2 separate regions of the Homo sapiens genome follow, and region 2 is linked to region 1. Evidence: fine-mapped expression QTL. A gene starts in region 1. The other region holds a variant in brackets. All regions are shown on one strand. Distances are between the middles of the regions.

The links. PIP is the estimated chance that this variant, and not a neighbour inherited with it, causes the effect.
Region 2: its variant is fine-mapped to the expression of TMOD3 in monocytes after LPS (Quach 2016, PIP 0.95).

Annotation. Positions count from the first base shown.
Region 1 is chr15:51,823,065-51,834,829 of GRCh38, forward strand. TMOD3 (tropomodulin 3) reads left to right here and starts at 6,589. Exons shown (of 10, transcript NM_014547.5): 1 at 6,589-6,772. RefSeq lists silencers at 6,494-6,648, 6,869-7,148.
Region 2 is chr15:51,867,094-51,878,858 of GRCh38, forward strand. TMOD3 (tropomodulin 3) reads left to right here. Exons shown (of 10, transcript NM_014547.5): 3 at 2,124-2,280. Among named protein-coding and RNA genes, the nearest start is that of TMOD3, 43 kb to the left of the region's middle. The variant G/GT (reference allele first, on the strand shown) is at 5,507.

The sequences.
Region 1 (11,765 bases):
AAGTCCCAGCTACTCGGGAGGCTGAGGCAGGAGAATCACTTGAACCCGGGAGGCAGAGGTTGCAGTGAGCCAAGGTCGCACCACTGCACTCCAGCCTGGGCAACAGAGCGAGATTTCATCTAAAAACAAACAAACAAACAAACAAATTAAAAACTTAAGGAGGATAAAAATGAAGACAGTTTAGTTAATGGGTACAAAAATACACTTGGAATAAGTTTTAGTGGTTCAACAGCACAGTAGGGTGACTGTAGTTGTCAATAATGTATTGCATATTTCAAAATAGCTGGAAGATTTGAAATGTTCTCAACACAAAGAAATAATCAATGTTTGAGATGATGACCAATTACCCTGGTTTGATTATTACACATTGTATCATGTAGCAAAATATCACATGTACTCCCATGCATATGTACAATTATAATGTATCAATAAGAATTTAGTAAAAGACAAAAAGAAACAATTATTTAAGACTTTTAAGCAAATAGGAAAATAAGCTGACAATCACTACAAATATCAAGAAGGAATCCATTGGCTAGATAACCTAGAAAAAACAATACATTGTTTTCAAGCCAATAAATGTTTATAAAAAATTCAAATAATACAAGGAGGCCAGGCGCGGTGGCTCACACCTGTAATCCCAGCACTTTGGGAGGCCGAGGTTGGAGGATCACTTGAGGTCAGGAGTTTAAGATCAGCCTGGCCAACATGGCAAAACCCTGTCTCTACTAAAAATACAAAAATAAGTCAGGTGTGGTGGTGCACGTCTGTAGTCCCAGCTACTCAGGAGGCTGAGGCAGGAGAATCGCTTGAACCCAGGAGGTGGAGGTTGCAGTGAGCCAAGATCGTGCCATTGCACTCCAGCCTGGGCGACAGAGTGAGACTCTGTCTCAAAAACAAATAATAATAATAAATAAAAATAAATAAAGACAAGGAAAAGTAAGCAGAAGTTAAATCATATCACAACTCTGGTCTTGGTAGAAGGGTTTGGGGCATCTAGCATTTATCATTTAAAGACCTGAATTTAATTCTTATTTAATTCCATTTATGACAGGGATCATATTCATTCACTCACCTGAGCTGAAATTTGGCTTTCTGCAGTGACTGTAGGAGAGTCTAACAATGGACAGCACTGGGAATTTATTGCTTCTATAGTAAATGTTAAACTGAACAGTTTTAGCACTAACATTTTTAATATTATTAAAATAGTATTAAAATTTGGGGATAATATTTTAGGTTTATGTGCATATCCCAGAAGTTTATTCTTTAATAGTGATGTTTGTCATCAACTTTGGCTTCAGCTGAAGAGTGACTTATTTTTTGGCCCTTTTGGCATTTGGCTGAAATGTGTATTCAGTGCACTTCTAATGGAGGCATAATGGGGTATGAAAATATGGGAAAGGCAAAATTAATTCCAGCTGATGGCATTAGTGAAGGTTGAGTGGGGAACAGACATTTGAGATGGACAATGAAACATGAGGAGGCTTCTAACAGGCAGAGATGGGTTATAGAAAAAGGGGCACTTGAGGCCAAAAAGTGTGCTTGAATCTTTCCTGTAAAACTGTATGCACACAGGCGTGGTGGCTCATGCCTGTAATCCCAGCACTTTGGGAGGTCAAGGAAGGCAGATCACCTGAGGTCACGAGTTTGAGACCAGCCTGGCCAACATGGTGAAACCCCGTCTCTACTAAAAATACAAAAATTAGCCAGGCATGGTTGTGCACACCTGGAATCCCAGCTACTTGGGAGGCTGAGGCAGGAGAATGGTGTGAACCCGGGAGGTGGAGCTTGCAGTGAGCCAAGATCACGCCACTGCACTCCAGCCTGGGTGACAGAGAGAGACTCCATCTCAAAAAAAAAAAAAAAAAAAAAACCGGTATGTACCCAGCCATGATGTTTGTCTTCTGTGATTGCTACCTCCCACTGCTTCCATAGGATTCCTACCTCCAAGCTTCCATAATGAAATCCTTCCCTTTTCATTTCAAATTTTTGTCTTTAGTTTTTCTCAGCTCTCCTATAAATACACGTTTTTACATACACACAAAATATGCTTACATATACCAAAGTAACTATTTCCTAAAGGAACTCTTTGATAACAAGAAAAGTGCTGCTGTTATTAATTAGCATACGATGATTCAGTGTGACATGCTTTCTGAGTTATTCTGGCTGGAAGTTTAGAGATAACACTAATTAGAGCTTGTAATATTAACACATAAAGTAGAGTTGAAGTGTCATTTTATCAATCACTTTCACTCTAACCAAACCCTGAACACTAATGGGAACCATACTCTGTCCCTTGTTCAAATATTTTACCTGAAGGCCTCAGATTTGTTCTCTGTAGTGTGTTAGCCTGTTGAACTTCAACAGTTTTCCATTACTTGAAGTGGGTTAAATGCAGACGGTTGGGGGTGCCATACCACTTCTAGTTCAGATCATCATGTTTCTTTGATTAGGCACTATAGTAGTCAGCTTTTGCTAAGTAAGTCTATAGTAACAAACGAACCTAAACCTCAGTTTCCCCTTCGCTCACATTATATATTATGTCAGCTAGTGGCTGAGGCTCTGATCCATGTAATTTCTTATTCTAGAACCCAGGCAGAAGGACCAGCCTCTATTCAGAACTTGTCTCTCTTGGTGGAGGGAAAGAGCAGGCACACTAGTAGAGAAAGGCAGTGACTCTTAAAGCTTCCACCCAGAACTGTCGGATTGTCCCTTCCACTTATATTTTATTGACCAAAGCAAGATTCATGTTTCTAAACTTTGTGATTACAATATGACATTTAACCGAAGAGAGGAGGAAAATCCCATCATGGGATCATAGCCAAGCCTGGAATGCCTGCGGGGCAGCACTGGAAGTCACATAGTAGTGGGCAAGCCTGTCTATTCCTCTAAAGGAGAGCAAATATGTGGGAACAATATTTCAATCTACCACAGGTATTTAGTGGACTTACCTTTTCACTTATTTATGTAAATCTAATTTCCATGTTTTTCCTGTTTGTTTTCCTCCAAGAATTATGTTTCCAACTCTAAGGGAATAGTGGCAACCCTAAATTATAGCCTTTTTAAAAGAGAGCTCTGTCTCTATTTCAGGACTTTCACAGGATCTTATTCTCCTGTGTAGTCAACCCTCTTGCAGCTGGTGTTTACATCCAAATCAGGTCACTGGCTGGCATTTACAGGTGAACCTTCTGGGTCTGTGTCCCAAGAGGAGAGTAGGAGAGAGAGGGAAGAACCCAACATTCATTTATTTACAAATATTTATTGAATACTTTCTGTGTGCAGGCAGTATTGTAGATGCTAGGGATGGAGGAGTAAACAAAGCAAAGCTTGTTGAGCTTCCACTAAGGAAACAAGCAATATGAAGCTATGTGGTAAAAGTGCTATGACGACAAGTAAAGAAAGGAGAGAATGGCAGGGTAAGGTGGTAAGAGGAAGACTTTCAGAGGTAACATGTGAGCAGAACCTTCATTAAAATGAGGGCATGAGCTAGAAGCATCTGGGAGGAAAATCATTCTCCTGCACAGCATAAAGACTCTGAGATGGGGAGAAACTTGGCAGGATTAAGAAACCTCAGGGAGGCCAGTATGACTAGAGCAGTATCAGAGAGAATATGTGGTAGGAAACAAAACAATCATATACAGATTTGTAGAGGTGTTAATTATGGATTTTATTCTAAATGTGATGGAAGCCATGAACGGTTTGGAGCAAGATGGTGATATGATCTGATTTGTTTTTAAAAGATCATTCTGGGCTGGGAGTGGTAGCTCACGCGTGTAATCCCAGCACTTTGGGAGACCAAAGTGGGCAGATCACCTGAGGTCAGGAGTTCAAGACCAGCCTAGTCAACATGGCGAAACCCCGTCTCTACTAAAAAAATACAAAAATTAGCTGGGTGTGGTGGGGTGGGGGGCCTGTAATCTCAGCTACTAGGGAGGCTGAGGCAGGCAGAATTGCTTGAACCCCGGAGGCAGAGGTTGCAGTGAGCAGAGATCACGCCACTGCACTCCAGCCTGGGCGACAGACAGAGACTCCGTCTCAAAAAAAAAAAAGTCATTCTGGCTGCTAATATAGCGAATGTGTTATAGCAAAGGAGTGGAAGAAGTGAGGAAGGTTCTACCTCTTCAGTGCTATCCAATACTAAGGTATTACTCTTAACATCTCTGGCCCCATATGTGGTATTTAATGTACACGGATTTAAGAGATTCATGTTTATAAGCTTTGTGATAAAAATATGATAATGTATGCCTGAAGAAAGGAAAAAATCCACCATCAAACTGCATTATTTTAGAAAAAGGAACTAAAATAAGATGTATACATTCGTTAGGAAAAATTTGAAATGAATAGCGAAAATATATTTAATATATGCCTAACAGCCCATATTGGAAGGTGAGAGAGGAAAAGTGTAATAGATTAAGTCAGTCAGACACTGAATTAAAAAGTCTCTCTGACCAAAGCAAAAGAAGCCATATTGCAGAGGAAAGTCCTTCTTAAAATAAACCATATCAGCTGGGTATGGTGTTGCATGTCTATAATTTCAGTACTTTGGGAGGCCACGGTGGGAGGGTCCCTTGAGCCCAGGAGTTCAAGACCAGCCTGGGCAACATAGGGAGACCCTGTCTCTACAAAAAAAAAAAAATTAAAAAAATTAGTTGGGTGTGGTGGCATATGCTTGTAGTCCCAGCTGCTCAGGCTACTCAGGAGGCTGAGGTTGGAGGATTGCTTGAGCCCAGGAGGTCACGGCTGCAGCGAGCCATGATAGCACCACTTCACTACAGCCTGGGTGACAGAATGAGATTGTCTCAAAAAAAAAAAAATTGATGAGATTTAGGAGACACATCAGTCTGATCAGCAGTGGAAATCACATTAGAATTTGACTCAAGAGAACTGTGTCTCATCTCTGGATCTCCAATTACTGGCTCTGGGACCTTATACAAATTACTTAACTTTTCTGAGTCTTCATTTTCTTATCTATAGAAATGGAGGATACCAGTTTATTCTTTATAGAGTTTTGAGGACTAGATTAGTTTTGAGGATTAGATGAGATATTACAAATGAAGTGCTGGCCCAGTGGTTGGTATGTATTATAAGTATAAACATTCTTATGAACCTGAATTCTGTAGGAAATTGCTCTCAGAAAGCTGTTATCTCCAAGAGATTGACCCAAAGATGGTATAGAAAATAAAATGCAATGGCCACAAGATTGAGTGTTGACTGTCCTCTAAGTATTTGCAATTGAGAAGGGTTTTTTCCTGGCCAAGCACGGTGGCTCACGCCTGTAATCCCAGCACTTTGGGAGGCCAAGGTGGGCAGATCATGAGGTCAAGAGTTCAAGACCAGAATGGCCAACATGGTGAAAACCCATCTCTACTAGGACTACAAAAATTAGCTGGGTGTGGTGGCACGTGCCTGTAATCCCAGCTACTTGGGAGGCTGAGACAAGAGAATCACTTAAACCTGGGAGGCAGAGGTTGCAGTGAGCCGAGATCACACCACTGCACTTTAGCCTGGGCGGCAGAACAAGACTCTGTCTTGGAAAAAAAAAAAGAAGGGTTTTTTTCCCTTAAAAACCTAAACCATCAGTGATCTCCATTGCTGAAATTAGTGGGTGCCAGTTGCATGAAATTCCAGGATGTTTATCTAACCTAGGGTCCTCCCTCCTCTGAGGGGAAGAAGTAGATGCCAGGAGAGGTTTAAACCATGAAGTGGCTCGCACACTGGGTGTAGCTGGAATGTACCTCAAGCAGGCACGTCAGTCCACTTCTTTGGCTGCATTTTTGAAAGGTGTGTCAAAGTTTAGCATTATTCCTGGGGATGGTCTACTCCTGAAGAGCAGGCCAGGAAAATTCCCAGTAAGTGACTAAATGAATAAATGGAAAAATGTCGCAGTTCCCTCTCCTCAGAGCCTCGCACAAAAGGTAGCCATTACATAGGCCACTGTCAAACAGTCCTCTGAGAGATTCCCACACTCTTCCTCTTCCCTCTAGACTACCCATCTGCCCCAATCCCCCCCTTGAGCAGCCTATTCTGTTTTTTCTCCCACTACAGCAGCCAGCCCCACCGCCTGGTGTAGAGCTTGAAGATGGAAAGGGAAGATAGGATGGGCAGAAACTGCCCTGCAATAGCTACATCATCCCCGAAACGCATACCTAAGAAAACCACTAAGGTCACCACACCCTGGAGGTGACATTCGCATGATTTATGCCTCTCTTGGGCTTTAGATTTTATTCCTTTACTTTTCTATAACTCTGTCATGACCAGTTTAAAGGCCCCAATGTCATGTCCTCGCATTAACAACCAAGGCTACAATGCAAGCCCTGCCATGTGCGCTTCTTTACAAAAGGTCAAAGTAAAAAGGAAATCTATACCAAAGAGCCTCTAGATACTATTTCCAGCTTCGGGGAAGTCCATAGTAGGTACTTCCACGGGTAGAGAACATTATCTTAGACTGGGATAAGGGTTGGTATTCGCAGTCCCCTTCCTACGTTCTGCCCATTGTAAAGACCAGGGTCAGCGTTGAGCCTCGCCCTTCTTGCTAGAACTACAACTCCCAGGATGCCCCGCGGCACGGGAGTGCGCACGCGCGTCGGAGGCGAAGGAGGAACCCACCGCACCTACAGGGCGGTCGAGTGAGGGAGCTGCTGGCGGGTGGGTCTGGCAACTCTTTGGGAGGCCGACGCGGGCGGACCGGCGGGTGCTGGGAACCGAGCCTCGGCTTGCGGCCGGCAGTTTCCGTGGGTCTGTGAAGAGGTCGGCGGCCCCTGCGGGCGCCAGTCAGGTAAGCCCAGCCCGGTGCTTTCCAGGAAGTCCGTCTGCGGGCGCGGGTAGGGAGTCGCACCGGCCATGGTGGCTGAGGAGGGAGAGGTTGCTGCCCGCCGGCCGCCCGACTCCAGGCTCCTTCCCGACGGGTCCGTCTCGGGGAGCAGGGGTGCGCGGGGGCTGCTTCTGCGCGAACGGCCCGGGCGGGGGACGTGGGGCGCGCTGGGCGTCGCCCGCCGGTCTAGGCGCGCGAACCTGGCGTTCCCAGTGAATCACCCGCGGCCCGGGCGCCCGGGTTCGGGACCGGCCCCCTCCCCTCCCGCTGAGCCGCGGCCGAGCTGGCTCCCTGCACCCTACCCAGCGTCGCCGGGACGCGATCACACCGAGATGGCACCGAGCCTCCTTCAAAGGCTTCGGCTTGTTGAAAGTGGGGCGGCGGAGTGGGGGAGCCAAAACTTAGGGCACACCCTTTTTGTGATTGAAATGTGGCTGCCCTTGCATTCACCGGTTTGATCTGTCTGCTCTTAGAATTAAGTTCCTAGCTCCCAGGCAGCACAGCTGGATCCGGCTGGGAAGTTTGTGTGTTAGTTTGTTTTGAGGACGTGACTGTGTCGTTATATTTTTGCTTGCGGGGGATGGTGTGTTTCCTCCGCAAGCCTGCATTCTGATTACAAACAGAAATGGGAAACAGCCACAGTTTCTTTTTTTCTTTTTAATGTTTAGTTAAGAATCGCATTTCCAACTTGCCCTTGGCCTCTGTTAAAACCAAAAGTCATCTGGCAATGAACACTGCAGTAAAACTTACCCCAGGAGGCCATACTTCAACAGGAAATAAGCCTGTGGAGATTTAAGTTAGTTATGTGCAGCCTCCCTTGGTTTGTAACATTTTCATGCAGCTCATGTCTCCTCTCCTTTTCTGAGAAACCTTCAGATTAATTTTTTTGGCAGATTAAATTGATTAATTGGCCCGTCAAAAATATATTAGGCTTGGAAAAATAGCTTTGCCAAGTCTCATTTACTCTTGCTAGTTTCTTCTTCCTAGGCACCTTTTCACCTTTAAGAGTCAGCAATCATAATAGTTACAGTCCCCTTTCTTACACATTCCTACGAAAGGAACAAAACGAATTAAAATGTCCCAATATATTTTAATTCTTTGAGCTTTCTTTGCTTTTGCAACTCTCAGAAATTGTAGTTTGCTGATCTTTAAAATTAGGTTGTTGGACCAGATGACCCCCAAGATTATTCTGCCCCTAAATATCTCTCGTTTTTAAAAGTTCATTTATTTTGCTCATTCAGGAAACACTGGCGATATGCATTCCAAGTCCTATGATAGACATGAGAAAGAGCAAACATGAGTTCTTGAGAATGCTGTAGACCTACTGCTCAATTTTATTTAATCATATTTTTTATGATTAATTCCTAAATTTTGTGGTATATCCAATATGCCAACCTACATTGTAATTAATAACTTCATCTGAAATTAAATAGGTACAGGTCAAATCCCATTCAAAGATTTTTCGTGTCTTAATTACTGGCCCATTGAAACAAAACAGGTTTGGTACAACAGAAAGGCCCTGAATGGTGGAGGGCAGTCTTTTCAAACACTTTAGCATGCATAATTCATTCAGGATATTCTAGGTTTGAAGTAGAGTCCAAAGTCTGTATGTCTGATGGGTGATGCTGTCAGAGACCATACTTTGAATGTCAAGTGTGGGGAGGTAATTTTAGAGGTATTTTCAGGTGTTTTTAATAGCAATTTAAATACTGGTACTGATAACTGATATTAGATACATAATTGATGGCTTTTTCAACTCTCAGTTTTTTAAAATACTGTAGTCCTATGAACTCTAACAAGAACAATTGTCATCATAAGTTTTTCTCCTTCTTTCCTTTTCCTTTCTCTTTGCTAGTTTTTCTTTTTTCTCTTTGCTTTTTTTTTCTCTCCTCCTCTTCCTTCCTTAATTGTTTTCATTCACATTAATTTGGCAATTCATGAATTCAAGTATGTGTCTTGCCCCATTCTGTATTCTGTACAAAGCAATGTTTCAGGCTCCTGGTGAATATGTATAAGACATGAGGCCAGGGCCGGGCCTGGTGGCTCACACCTGTAATCCCAGCACTTTGGGAGGCCAAGGTAGGAGGATTGCTTGAACCCAGGTGTTTGAAATCAGCCTGGGCAACATAGCAAGACCCTGTCTCTACAAAATAAAATAGATTAGCCAGGTGTAGTGGTGATGCCTGTAGTCCTAGCTACTCAGGAGGCTGAGGCAGGAGGATTGCTTGAGCCCAGGAGTTTGAGGTTACAGTGAGAGACAATGATTGTGCCACTGCACTCCAGCCTGCGTGACAGAGTAAGACCCTGTCTCTCTAAAAAAAGAAAAAAAATTATATATATATATATATATATATATATATGAATGACATGGTTCCTGTCTAGGACCTTATTCTCTTTGGGATTAGGCAGATATACTTATGTATAGTCCACAGCACTTGTAAGAGCCACCTGTAGGGAATAAAAACGTGGTAGATATTCAGGAGAGATATTTTCCAGTTGCAGGAGTGGGGAACAACTAAAGTCAATATTTTTTTCCATTCACTGGTCATCTCTTTCCCCAGGCTATACTGTCTATACTGTTTGAATGTATGTGACATATCTACATAGAGTATAGTGGAATTCTGTAAATTTATTTTATTTGGAACCTGAGATGAGCCAGATACATGAACATAATTAGAACCGGATGTGGTGGCACGCTTCTGTGGTACCAGCCACTTGGGAGACTGAGGCAGGAGTACCACTTGAGCCCAAAAGTTCCAGGACAGCCTGGGCAACATAGCAAGACCCTGTCTCAAAAACTAAAACAAAAGAGAAAATCAATTATATCTGAGCAATATCACAGGGAGGATGAGAGGCTTTGCGGATAAAAGTATACCTGGATAGAGGGAGGGAGAAAGATAAAGAGGAGGATCCAGTAAACAGTAGAGGAAAAAAAGGCTTTTAGTAAGGTTTTCTGGTGTCAGTCTGATGTATACTGATATTTAGGCTGTGTTGTAGCTGGCAAACTACTCTTCACACTTTTCAGTTGCTCTTTAATATGCATGAGCTCTCTCGATTAGAGTAGATGAGGAGGGCATTATTCTCTAGGCCGTGTGGCTAAAGCGCTATCATCCCTTGGTCATTGATAGTCCTTGCTGACATTTGATTTACATGCAGTTTTATGTCAGATCCTTTAAAATCACAAATATATGGAGAGAAAAATGGTATAGACAATAGAATATTCTACTGGGCCTATAACTGGTCCATTAAGTGCTTATTTAAATTGTAAACAATCAAATTTAATTTGGTGTTTATAAAAAATTATGTATGTGAACATACATTCTGTTATCTATATGTGTCTGTAATCCATTAGCTTATTTACAATGATCAAAGAATAGAAGTGTGAATAAATCAGAATGGCACATGATTGAAAATGCTGTGTAACTGAAGATGCATTTGTGTAGTCTTGAATTTCATTTGAAACAAAATTGTTAGTCTGTATCTTGAAGCACATTGCTACTTTGTATTTTTATTGATGTATAATTAACATTCAATAAAATGCACATAATATCCAGTTCAAGGAGTTCTGACAATTGTATACACTGTAACTTCTACCAAAATCAGATAGAAAACATTTTTTTTAAGTCACCCTAGAAAGTTCCCTCACCCACCTTCCTCCAAAGGCAATCACTTCCTGACTCCATAGATTTCTGACACTACAGAGATTTTTTGACTGGTCTTGGACTTCACATAAATGGAATCATACAGCATGTGCTTTTTTTGTGTTTGGCTTCTTTCATGTAAGAAAGATTCATCTATGTTGTTGGCAAGTATCAGTGGTTTGTCCTTTTAAGTTGTTGAATAGTATTCCATTGTATGAATGTACCCCAATTTATATTTTCTCCTTGATGGATATTTGGAATAAGATTGTTATGAACATACTTTTACAAGTTTCTTGATAAATACCTAGGAGCAGAGTTACTGAGTCATAGGGTATGTGTATGTTTAACTTTATTAAAAATCTGCCAAACAGTTCTCCAAAGTGGTTTATACTGAGTTCTACTTGCTCCGTATTTTTAGTGTTGCCAATGTTTAGTATTGTCAGCCTTTTCAATTTTAGTCACACTACAGGATGTATGGTTGTACCTCATTATGGTTTTAATTTACATTTTTCTGATGATTAAGAATGTTGAGTGCTTTATCATATGTTAATTGGCTATGCAGTATCTTTTTTTGTGAATTGTTTGTTCAAGTCTTACCTAGTCTTTCATTGGGTCATTCATCTTTTTATTGTTTGTAGGAGCTCTTTATATATTCAAGGTACAAGTTCTTTGTCACATATAGAGATAGATGTGTTGACAGTTTTTTTTTATACAGTCTGTCCCTTGTCTACTTTCTCAATGATATTGTGATGAGCAGAAATTTTTAATTTTTATAAAGTCTGTTTTATCAATTTTTTGTATTATGGCTAGTGTTTTTTGTCCTGACCAATAAATTTTTACCAGTGCCCAGGATTGCAAAGAAAGCTTTTTCTTCTAGAAACTTTATTTTTCTAAGTTTTTCATTTGAGTCTGTGATTGATCTCAAAGTAATTATTATTGTGTTATGATATAAGATAGGAGTTTGGGTTCATTTTCCACCTATATAGATATCTAGTTGTTCCAGCAACATAGGTTTAAGAAAAACTTCCCTTTCTCGGCCAGGCACAGTGGCTCACACCTGTAATCCCAGCGCTTTGGGAGACCAAGGCAGGCAGATCATTTGAGCCCAGGAGTTTGAGACCAGTCTGGGCAACATGACAAAACCACATTTCTACTAAAAATACAAAAATTAGCCGGAAGTACTGGCATGCACCTATAATCCCAGCTACTTGGGGGGCTGAGGCAGGAGGATCATCTGAGGGAGGTGGAGGCTACAGTGAGTTGTTATCATGCCACTGCACTCCAGCCTGAGGGCCAGAGTAAGACCCTGTCTCAAG
Region 2 (11,765 bases), 44 kb after region 1:
TCCAGTGTGACTGGAATGGAGAGGGTGTGTGAGATGAGGCTAGGGTGACAGACTGAGGGGCTGGTGGTGAAGGATAAAAAATATCAGGCAGCTGATCCAGGTGGGAAGCTAATGTAACAGTCTCAGCAAGCTTAGATCATAGTTTCGACCAAAGTAATAATGTTGGAGATGGGAAAAAGATGAATGAGTTCTTCAGGAAGTAAAAATGAGTAGGACTTGCAGGTCAATTGGAAATGGATTCTTCATGTGTAATTCCTCTCATGATTTCTAAGTCTAAAGGTAGAAATCTTATGTTTCTTTTTTATGTTTCCATAAACAATTTTGTATTACAGAAACATACTTGGTACAAAGTTAGGAATGTTTCGTCTTTACAGTTCAGCTTTCTGTGTAGTAGGTACCATTACATAAAGGGTAACACAGAAGTGAATTTTATGAAAATTATTATGTGTCTCAACAAATGACCACAGTTGAAGTGCTGTATTTCCTAGTTACAAATTGAATATTTTCTATTACTATTGCCCATATAAGATTACCCTTTATAATGAAAAATTGTCTTATACCACCCATGAAATTCAGCGTCACTGCCAATATTGGGAGGTTTTGCAAAAGAGAGCTGGCCCTTTTGTGTGATTTCTCTGGCTGCCTCCCATTTTCAAAGCAAAGATATACCCAGAAATATGAGACAAGGCAGTATCACCTCTTTGGCTTTTGACAAGTGAAAGGACGGTACTCACTTTGTCTAGTCAGCCCTTGTGTTTACTGGGCTTAGTGAAAATTAAGGGACTACAGGAGACAACTTTAATCCATCACCTTCCACTGCACCTCCCTCATCTCTAAGTCAGTCCATGCGCTCAAAAAGGCTGTACCCGTGTGGAAACCCAGGAACATAGCTCTTGCTGTGAGTATGTCAGGGGTCCCTTGGGGCATGTGAAACAATGATAGTGATTGTAGCAAGTACATCCTAGTGGTCATGTATATATGTACGCATACACACACAAGTGGAACATCTCACGTTGTGTTTAAACTGAAGTAAACATTAATCTGATATCCTACTGTATGGTATATATGTTGTAATCATGAAGAAGTCTGTACAATGAAATGGAAGTCATGAAGGAATATAATGTACAGAGTCATTTAAAACTCTTTTGTAATAGAATTATTCTCTGTACATATATATACACTGAGCAGTTATTAAGCATTAATAAAACTTTTTAAAAAAAACGTTTTAAGTTCAGGGATACCTGTGCAGGTTTCATTACGTAGGTAAACTTGTGTCATGGGGGTTTGTTGTACAGATTATTTCATCACTAATACCTGTTAGTTATTTTTCCTGATCCTCTACCTCCTCCCACCCTCCACCCTCCTCTATGCTCCAATATGTGTGCTTTATATGTCCTTGTGTTCTCATCACTTAGCTCTATATGTGTGCTCTATATGTCCGTGTGTTCTCATCATTGACTCCCACTTATGTAAGTAAGAAGATGTGGTATGTGGTTAATAAAACTTTTTTATTAGTATCCCAGAACACTTAAAAACTAAAGATTGTTTTCTGCTAGTAGAATCCTCTCTGAAGAAAATGTTCTATTAGAAAACGTATGCTGGGCGCGGTGGCTCACACCTGTAATCCCAACACTTTGGGCAGCCGAGGAGGGCAGATCATCTGAAGTCAGGAATTCTAGACTAGTCTGGCCAACATGGCAAAACCCCATCTCTACCCAAAACGCAAAAATTAGCTGGGCGTGGTGGCAGGCGCCTGTAATCCCAGCTACTTGGGAGTCTGAGGCATGATAATCACTTGAACCCAGGAGGCAGAGGTTGCAGTGAGCTGAGATCATGCCACTGCACTCCAGCTTTGGGGATAGAAGGAGACTGTCTCCAAAAAGAAAAGAAACTGTACTAATGTATGTGCCTATTTTAATAATAATGTAAGTGAATTCTACCTAATAAAAAAGAAGTTTAATGTTTGGAGCAATTGTACATTGCTGTCCTAAAATCCTGCAATGAAGTGTTTAGTGCCTGTATCACATTCCAGTCTGTAATTCTTTTTTATATGGGTAATCTTCGGAAGCATATAGCATTAGCATTCTTATTGGTCATATTGGCTGATTCATTCTCTCTGGCAGAATGCCCTTCTGCCTGCAGGGTTCCGGCAGAAGAACCAGACATCAAAGTCCACCACAGGGCCATTTGATAGAGAGCATCTCCTTTCATATCTGGAGAAAGAAGCATTGGAGCATAAAGACAGGGAAGACTATGTGCCCTACACTGGAGAAAAAAAAGGTAAGCCCCAGAATTTTAAAGTCATTATGTGGTAACACTTGATTTTTCTTTTTATAGGTGGGTGTGGAGAAAATCATATTTTTAGAGGTACATCATTGGTAGCCTTAAATATATGATACTGTTGACTTAGACATTTATTGGTTTAGATACTTTATTTACATTTTTCATCAACTTGGTCAATAAGTTTCTTCTTAATGATGTTAGTGAGGTTTTATTACACAATGATTTTGAATAACATTCTTTAATTCTCTACTATAACAGATCTAAAAGTATATTGAAGGAAACTTAAAATTCAGTGGTAGATTACAGAGTACAAATGATGTTAAGGCATCTATTCTAACTGCATTCTTTAAAGTGGAATGCCATAAAACAATTCATGCCATATTTTCAAAGACCCTTTTAAAAAGCTATTCTATACCCATCATTATTAATTCATGGTTATGATTGCTAATGCTTCATAATCAGTAGTTTTAGGAAATTTTTCTAGTCCAAGTCTCCCCCATTTAAGTGTTTGAGCTTATGTATTCTCAGTGGAGCCTGAGTACGGCTGTGGTTGTTTTTTTGTTTGTTTGTTTGTTTGTTTGAGATGGAGTCTTGCTCTGTTGCCCAGGCCGGAGTGCAATGGTGCACCCTCGCCTCACTGCAACCTCCGCCTCCCGGGTTTAAGCGATTCTCCTGTCTCAGCCTCCTTAGTAGCTGGGATTACAGGTGCACACCAGCACGTCTGGCTAATTTTTGTATTTTTAGTAGAGATGGGGTTTCACAGTGTTGGCCAGGCTGGTCTCGAACTCCTGACCTCAAGTGATCCACCCACCTAGGCCTCCTAAAGTGCTGGGATTACAGGCATGAGCCACTGCACCCAGCCACAGCTGTGTTTTTAAAAGTTCTATATATAATAATACTTAAATGAAACAGGATAAGTTTTTCAGCTTTCCAAACAGGTCAGAATACAGGTTGGCCTAAAAAGCCAAATTCTACGTTCACTCTTACTTGGAATACTGTGTATAGAATACTGGGGAATGGTGGCAGCAGTAGCAGAGCTGAAGATCAGCTCTTGCAGGCACCATTTTTATGTCTGAATTCATATTAGTCCAGGCAGGAAGAATGGGACTTGGGCTTTTTATTTGAGAAAGAGGCCCTTCTCAATCATTTTGGCCAGAACTGTGTCACATGGCTACCCCTTAGCTGCAAGGGAAGCAAGAAAGTTCATTTTAGCACTCCAGCTTCTATAGTAGAGGAAGGCTTGTGAATGGCTATTGAGTAGGTAAGCCGTAAGCTCTGCACCTGACTTTTCTAAAATTATCCATCACCCCAGCCCCTGTGCTTTTTCTTTAGAGTCCTCTTCCTCTTCATCTCTTGTTAAGGATCACTATCTTTGTTATTTAAGTTAGTCAGGGTTCTCCAGAGAGACAGAACCAACAGGATGTGAGGGGAGAGAAAAGTTTATTTTAAGGAGGCTTTTTAAATTCAAAATCTAGCAGCCTGGAGACCCAGGGAAGATTTACTATTCTTGTCCAAAGGCAGTCTAGTGGCAGAATTTCTTCCTACTTTGGGGAGATAAATCTTTGTTCTTTTAAGGCCTTCAACTGATTAAATGAGGCCCACCCACATTATGGAGGTTAATTGGCTTTACTTAGAGTCTGCTGATTTAAATTTTAATCTCATCCAAAAAAAAAGCAAAAAACAAAAAACCTTCATGAAAACGTTTAGAACAATGTTTGAGAAAATAGCTGGGCACCACAGCCCAGCCAAATTGACACATAAAACTAACCATCACGCTACTGTTACAGGTGGGAATGTCATGTCCCTCAGGTGTTTGGGGCCAGAAAAAGAGTTCAAAACCAATGCAGAGTTTTGAAGTGTGGAGAATCATAAAGACAGGCAGAGGCATCTCTTCCTTTTTATTTGTCAAAGAAAACTACTGGTTATATTTTCTCTGTGCAGCCATACGTATGTCAGTGTTTATGGCTTTAATCCTGCTTAAATAGAAGAACATAATTTTATGAGAAAAAATACTGGTTGATCACCTTCTGTTATTCTGCGTGTTTCAGGTGGACCCTGGGGGTATAATTTGGAAAGGAATGGAGGTAGAAACAAAGCGAGAGATGTGAGAAAAAGAGATGTCAGAAAAAAACTATGGAATTTGAGGATAAGAAGGAGAAAAAATAAGAGACCTGAAAGAAAGCTGCATTTGTCCCAGGCTAACCCCGGAAGCTTCCTAATATGCCCTTGTTTCATAATCTCCAGTTACCTAGGAAAATATCTTGGAGGATTAGAGGAAATAGGAAAGAAAGCAGAGAAGAATTACGGAAAATAAGAAAATACAAGAGGGGGAAAAGGATAGAGGTGAGGAATATGGGTGACATAGGAAAAAGTGCTGTATCCTCAACTATGGTAGAATATCTTTGTCCTCCTATGTATCTTTTAAAATTTTTACTTCTTACTTTAGGTTTTAGATGGGTAAGAATAAATGGAAGTAGTTGAACAAGTAATTTTACATTCACAATCAGTGGTTTCTCTTTATAATACATTCGGTATTTTTACTGCCTCTTTTAGCTACATATGTCTATTAAATATTGTTTATGGGCAGCTCTGATGCAGTGATTAAGATGATAGCTTTTTTTTAATAATGAACTTTTTGTTACTCAAAGAAAATGCACAGGTCATCTGTATGTAGCTCAGTGAATTATAAAATAAACACACCATGTAATTACCATTCAGGTAACGATAACATCAGCAGCCGGACGCGGTAGCTCAACGCCTGTAATCCCAGCATTTTGGGAGGCCGAGGCAGGCGGATCTCTTGAGGTCAGGAGCTCGAGACCAGCCTGGCCAACATGGTGAAACCCCGTCTCTACTAAAAATACAAAATAGCTGGGCATGGTGGCATGCACCTGTAATCCTAGCTACTCAGGAGGCTGAGGTAGGGGAATCCCTTGAACTCAGGAGGCGGAGATTGCAGTGAGCCGAGGTTGCTCTACTGTACTCCAGCCTGGGCGACAGAGTCGAGACCCTGTCTCAAAAAAAAAAAGGTAACATCAGCACCCACTGAAGGCCCTATCATGCTCCTTCCCAGTCACTTTTCCCTTTCTTGTGAAAGGTAATTACCAACATAGTGTCTAATACAATAGTTAGTTCTGTCTGTTTTGAACTTTATATCGATGGAAACATACATTCCGGGCATCTGGCATGCCTATGTCATATATTTTTTGTGAGGACCAAATTT[G/GT]TTTTTTTTTTTTTTGGTTTGGTTTTTAGAGATGAGGACTCACTCTCTTGTTGCCCAGGCTGGAATGCAGTGGCACTGCAACCTGGGACTCCTGGGCTCAAACGATTCTTCCACCTTAGCCTCTAGAGTAGCTAGGACTACAGGCACATGCCCCCACACCCACCTGAGGACCAGATTTATTAATGGGTACACTGAAATCACTGTAAAGGATCATATGGGAGATGATTACCGAACAAGAGATTTTCATTCTCTGTCATGGAGGAGCGGTCCAGAACAACCATGGGATGAATTTGTGAGTTTCATTAATCTATCTGATGGAAGCACATACTATCAGATGTGGTAGAATCAAGCCTTATAAGCCATGTCACAGTACCATGGACCTGAAGGAGGGCAAATTCCTCTTCAACAATCAAGCAACTTTGGCTGTAAAGCTCTGCTTTGAAATATAGCAAAAAGCCACCTCTAATGTTCTGAAATCCACCCTAGACTCTCATCTTTAAAGCAGTTAGCCTTAGTTATCCTTAGTCACGAATATGCCTTCCTCTCTCTTCATCTCATCTCCAGGATCCTGATCACGTTCCAGAAGGTCCTCAGAGTAATTCATCTATGTCTTATTAGAATACTTCCCATCAACCTAAATGTTAATCTCTGTAGCTCCAAAAATCCAGAAGCTTGTTTTTTAAAGATAGCTCTCCTATGACTCTGCCCTGAACACCTGGGTTGAGTCTCAGATTTTTTACTTAATAGCTTATTTTAGTGGAGATAGACTTTCAGATTGAGGATGCTTTCCCAGGCAATAGAGGTTTTCCTGGCTCTTCATAAAAGTTTGCAAACCTACCTCTATTGAGAAACAAAGGCATTTTACTTTTTTGGTACATTTAGATTAGTTAGAATCCATAAGATGTTCTCTTGGTCTCTAAATGATTTTTTCATTCAAAGATGACTGGCCTCAGGGTGCAGTACCTAATGGCAATATTAGCCTTCTGACCAGGGAATGTTGTAGCAGTGTCATTCAGTTCCTTGAACTCTTTCCAAATTATATGCCAAAATCACATAGTGAGCTCTCATCGTAAATTAATTATTTTAAAGGATCTATCAGATGACTGCTTAATTTTTTTTTTTTTTGGAGATGGAATCTCACTCTGTTACCCAGGCCGGAGTGCAGTGGCCTGCCACCACACCTGGCTAATTTTTGTATTTTTAGTAGAGACGGGGTTTCACCATGTTGGTCAGGCTGGTCTCGAACTCCTGACCTCAGGTGATCTGTCTGCCTTGGCCTCCCAAAGTGCTGGGATTACAGGTGGAGCCACTGCACCTGGCCGACTGCTTAATTTTTTCAAAAGCAAAAACTTGGGAACCACTAAAAGGATTACTTACCTAGTCATTAGACTATTTTCTTATATTCTGAGACTGACAATTAATTATACTTCTTATTTTTTCACTTAAAGGCAGACTCTGTTTCTGGAGCCAGAATTACACATAACTGGCCAGGACAGGAGGGAATCCTCATAAAACCAAAAATTTCACATTTAGTTTTTCCTTTTGACCAATATAAAAGTAAATATTCATGCCAAATTTTATTTTCTAGATTGCTAAAAAATGTTTTTTAGAAACCTGATAGACTGAGGACACTTAAGAGTTATTATATGTAAATCCATTAATAATTTCACCTCATGATTTGTGAAATGATTATATGTTTTACAGAATTGAAAGCATATGTCAATATATGAAAAGAAGAAAGTAATCCTAATTAAGTGAAGCTCAAGGCCTTATGTCTTACATGCATTTAGGGGAGTATTTTGTCCTATACTGGTGAATATTTTACTTTTTACCTCTTCCTCCTTAAAATTTTGCAGAATGTATAACTGAGACATAGGCCAGCACAGGAGTGAAAGAGAGTATTCATCCAGCTTGTTCTCGTTTGGAGAATGGTGAAAATTCTCAGTGCTGATTATTAGTTCCCATCATATTTTTACATAGCATGCATATTCTGTCTCAAAGATAGATAAGGCATAGAACCTTGTCATGAATTTATCACTTGAAGAAATACTGTGTCCCAGTCTTCAGTATTTTTTACTACCTGTCATTTTGTTTTGTTTTGCTGGGGACTCCTCCTCTCTATTGCTGGTATCATGCTCCGCCCTTACCTAGACTAAGAATTTTTTTTCCCTGTGTTATTTCACGGATGGACCAGAGCCATGGCTGCACCTTATATCCTATACAGAGATGTGCATTCTGATTCTGTTTGAGCTGCTGACTCACCCGGTATGGGCTCCTCCCTGCCTTGCACCGCACTCCTTTTCTTCCTGCTGGGCCTTGGGGTACAGCCATTTATGCTTTTTGGTTGTTTTCTCTTTTCCTATCCTGAGAATGGAATGCCCTTTTGTTCTTTCCCAAGAATTCCACATGCCCCTCCCTGCTTTTTTAAAGGTAAATTTAACCCAGTTGCCTTAAACTAAGGACTTCCCATATGCTGTCCAAGTTATTTATTCACAGTTATGTTAGCTTTCCAGAAAACCTCCTCTTTCTCACCTTTCTGAGTATGTGATTTCTTTGGAGGAAAGACAGACCTGATCCCTTAGTAAACCAGAAAGATCATGATTATAAACCTGCCTACATCAAGAGGATTACATAACCACCACTGGGCAATTGGTTTCCGCTAAGTCCAAAGGTAAAAACTGGCTCTTATTTTTGTAATCATATTGTATGAACCCTAAATGTCCCTTGTAGACCTCTGAAAAGTGGTCTTCCCAGGCACTGAAGCTGATATTTGAAATGGGCTATTTACATTAGTCATGCAGATGCTGGCATCTCCTTTTCAGACCGGTCATGCAATATCATTTGAATGATTCACTGTTAACTCCCTTGGGGTGAGGAGTTAGCCAGATGGACGGCTTGTTACTCATGTTAACCGGTTTCATGGGGAACATTTCCTGGATAACTACACCCACTCTGGATAGTTCCTTTCCTCCAGCATTTCTCCATATGATTTACATACCGTAAAGTACTGCCTTTTTTTTTTTTTTTTTTTCCTGAGACAGAGTCTTGCTCTGTCGCCCAGGCTGGAGTGCAGTGGCGCGATCTCGGTTCACTGCAAGTTCCACCTCCTGGGTTCATGCCATTCACCTGCCTCAGCCTCCCAAGTAACTGGGACTACAGGCAGCCGCCACCATGCCCAGCTAATTTTTTTTTGTATTTTTAGTAGAGACAGGGTTTCACTGTGTTAGCCAGGATGTTCGCCATCTCCTGACCTCGTGATCCACCCACCTTGGCCTCCCAAAGTGCTGGGATTACAGGTGTGAGCCACCGTGCCCGGCCTAAAGTACTGCTTTTAGTTGTTTCAGAATCTTGTACTCTGAGGCTTTGTTGCTACTTGTTTTTAGGATTGTTATGTCCCCTTGATGAATTGTCCCTTTTGTTATAATGAAATGACCTTTATCTCTGGTAATATTCTTTGCTATAAAACCTACTTTGCCTGATGTTAATAGAGCCTATCTTTCTTTATTTTGATTAGATGTCATGGTATATCTTTTCTATTTGTCCTGTCTGTTCTTTGATGTTGTTGTTGTTGTTGTTGTTGTTTGTAAGAGACAGGGTCTTGCTCTGTTGTCCAGACTGGAGAGCGGTGGCATGATCACAGCTCACTGCAGCCTCAAACTCTTGGGCTCAGGTGATTCTTCTGCCTCACCCTCCTAAGTAGTTGAGACTACAGGCATGTGCTACCACACCTGGCTAATTTTTAAAATTCTTTTTAGAGGCGGGTCTTGCTATGTTGTTCTCAAATGCTTGGCCTCAAGCAATCCTTCCACCCACCTCAGCCCCCTGAGTACCTGGGATTACAGGTGTGAGACAGTGCACCCAGCGCTTTTTTTTTTTTTTTGAGATGGAGTCTCGCTCTGTTTCCCAGGCTGGAGTGCAGTGGTGTGATCTCGGCTCACTGCAGGCTCCACCCCCTGGGTTCATGCCATTCTCCTGCCTCAGCCTCCCGAGTAGCTGGGACTACAGGCACCTGCCACCTCGCCCGGCTAATTTTTTGTATTTTTAGTAGAGACGGGGTTTCACCGTGTTAGCCAGGATGGTCTCAATCTCCTGACCTCGTGATCCACCTGCCTCAGCCTCCCAAAGTGCTGGGATTACAGGCATGAGCCACCGCACCCGGCCCCAGCGCTTTTTTTAAAAAAAAAAATCTTCCGTCCAGGCATGATGGCTCACACCTGTAATTGCGGCACTGCGGGAGGATCACTTGAGGTCAGGAGTTGCAGACCAGCTTGGGCAACACAGTGAGACCGTGCCTCTACTAAAAATGAAAAAAAGTTAGCTGGATGCGGTGGTGTGTGCCTGTAGTTCCAGTTACTCCGGAGGCTGAGGTGGGAGGATGGCTTGAGCCTACGAGTTCATTGCTGCAGTGATCCATGCTCATGCCACTGCACTCCACCCTTGGCATCAGAGCGAGACTCTGTCTCAAAAAAAATAAAGAAAAAGTCTTCTATGCCTCTACTTCACTTTTTGAACATATGTAATATAATTATAGTAATTTTTAATGTCCTTACTTGCCAATTTTATCATCTATCATTGTTAAGTCAATTTTGATAGACCGATTTTTTTTCTTCTTCTGGATCAAATTTTCCTGTTTCTTTGCATGTTTGTAATTGTTTATTGGGTATCAAACATATTAACTTTCCAGTGCTGGATGTATTGATATACCTATAAATATTCTTGAGTTTCATTCTGGGGTGCAGTTAAGTTACTTGGAAACAGTTTGATTCTTTGGAGTCTTGCTTTTAAGATTTGTTAGGTGGGCCAGGCACGGTGGCTCACGCCTGTAATCCCAACATTTTGGGAGGCCGAGGCAGGTGGATCACGAGGTCAGCAGTTCGATACCAGCCTGACCAACATGGTGAAACCCCATCTCTACTAAAAATACAAAAAAATTAGCTGGGTGTGGTGGCGGGCGCCTGTAATCCCAGCTACTAGGGAGGCTGAGACAGGAGAATCTCTTGAAACCGGAAGACGGAGGTTGCAGTGAGCCGAGATTGCACCACTGCACTCTAGCCTGGGCAACGAGAGCAAAACTCTGTCTTAAAAAAAAAAAAAAAAGATGTGTTAGGTGGGACTAGAGCAGTGTTCAGTCTAGGGCTAATTATTTCCCCAATACTGAGGCAAGACCCTTCTGAGTTCCCTACCCAATTGTGAGCCTTGTGAATTGTGAGCTTTTCCAGTCTGGCTGGTGGGAACAGGTTCTATTCCCAGCTCTGCATGAACATGGGCATTATTACCTCTAAGCTTTCAGAAGTTTTTTTTTTTCCCTTGGCTCAAGGTAGTTCCTCACATACATGTACCAGTCGGTGCTATGCTGAACACTCAGTGTGACCCTCTGCACAACTCCTGGGCTCCCTCTCTGTGCAGTTCCCTCCTTTCTGGTTCCCTATCCTTCAAACACTGGCTGCCTTGGTTTTTCTGGACCTCAGCTGTGTCTGCAGCTCAGCATTCACCAGGCTCTGCCTGAATTTCTGCTCCCTGATCTGCAGCCTGGAACCTTTCTCCAGACAATAAGCTAGGTAATCACAGGGCTCACCTCTGTTTTTCCCATATCATAGGGATCACTGTCCTTTGTTGCCTGATGGCCAGTGTCTTGAAAACTGTTGTTTCTGGCCAGGTATGGTAACTCATGCCTGTAATCCAAGCCCTTTGGGAGGCTGAGGCAGGAGGATTGCTTGAGGCCAAAGAGTTCAAGACCAACCTGGCCAACATAACAAGAACCATCTCTTTAAAATATATGTGTGTGTGTGTGTGTGTGTGTGTGTGTGTAAAACTTGTTTCATATATTTTGTCCATTTTAATTGTTTCAGGCATGTGGGTAAATTCTGTCCTTATTACCCCATCTTGACATAGGAACCTCCAGAATAGGATTCAGTTGCTGTTCTATTTCCCTGTTAAAGTATTAACTCCCAAAAGTGAAGGATCTCTTGTTTTGTTTTCCTTATGGTGTCTTTCTAGTTCATTGTCTAGTATATACAAACTCACTAAACATTTGTTAACTAAGCATTTATTGGTGACCATGTTGCAGCATCAAGCAGGTGTTGTGTGTATCATTGGATCAAAACAAAAATGTCTTTCTAGGCTGTGTCCCCTCATTCTTTAGTTTGATTGGTTTGAGGTTTTTGTGCTGCTTGTCAAACAACATATCACAAAGCCTCTTGGAGATTATAGTGGAGTAGTGTCCTTCAATCTTTTCTGGAACAAGGCAGTTTATAAACAA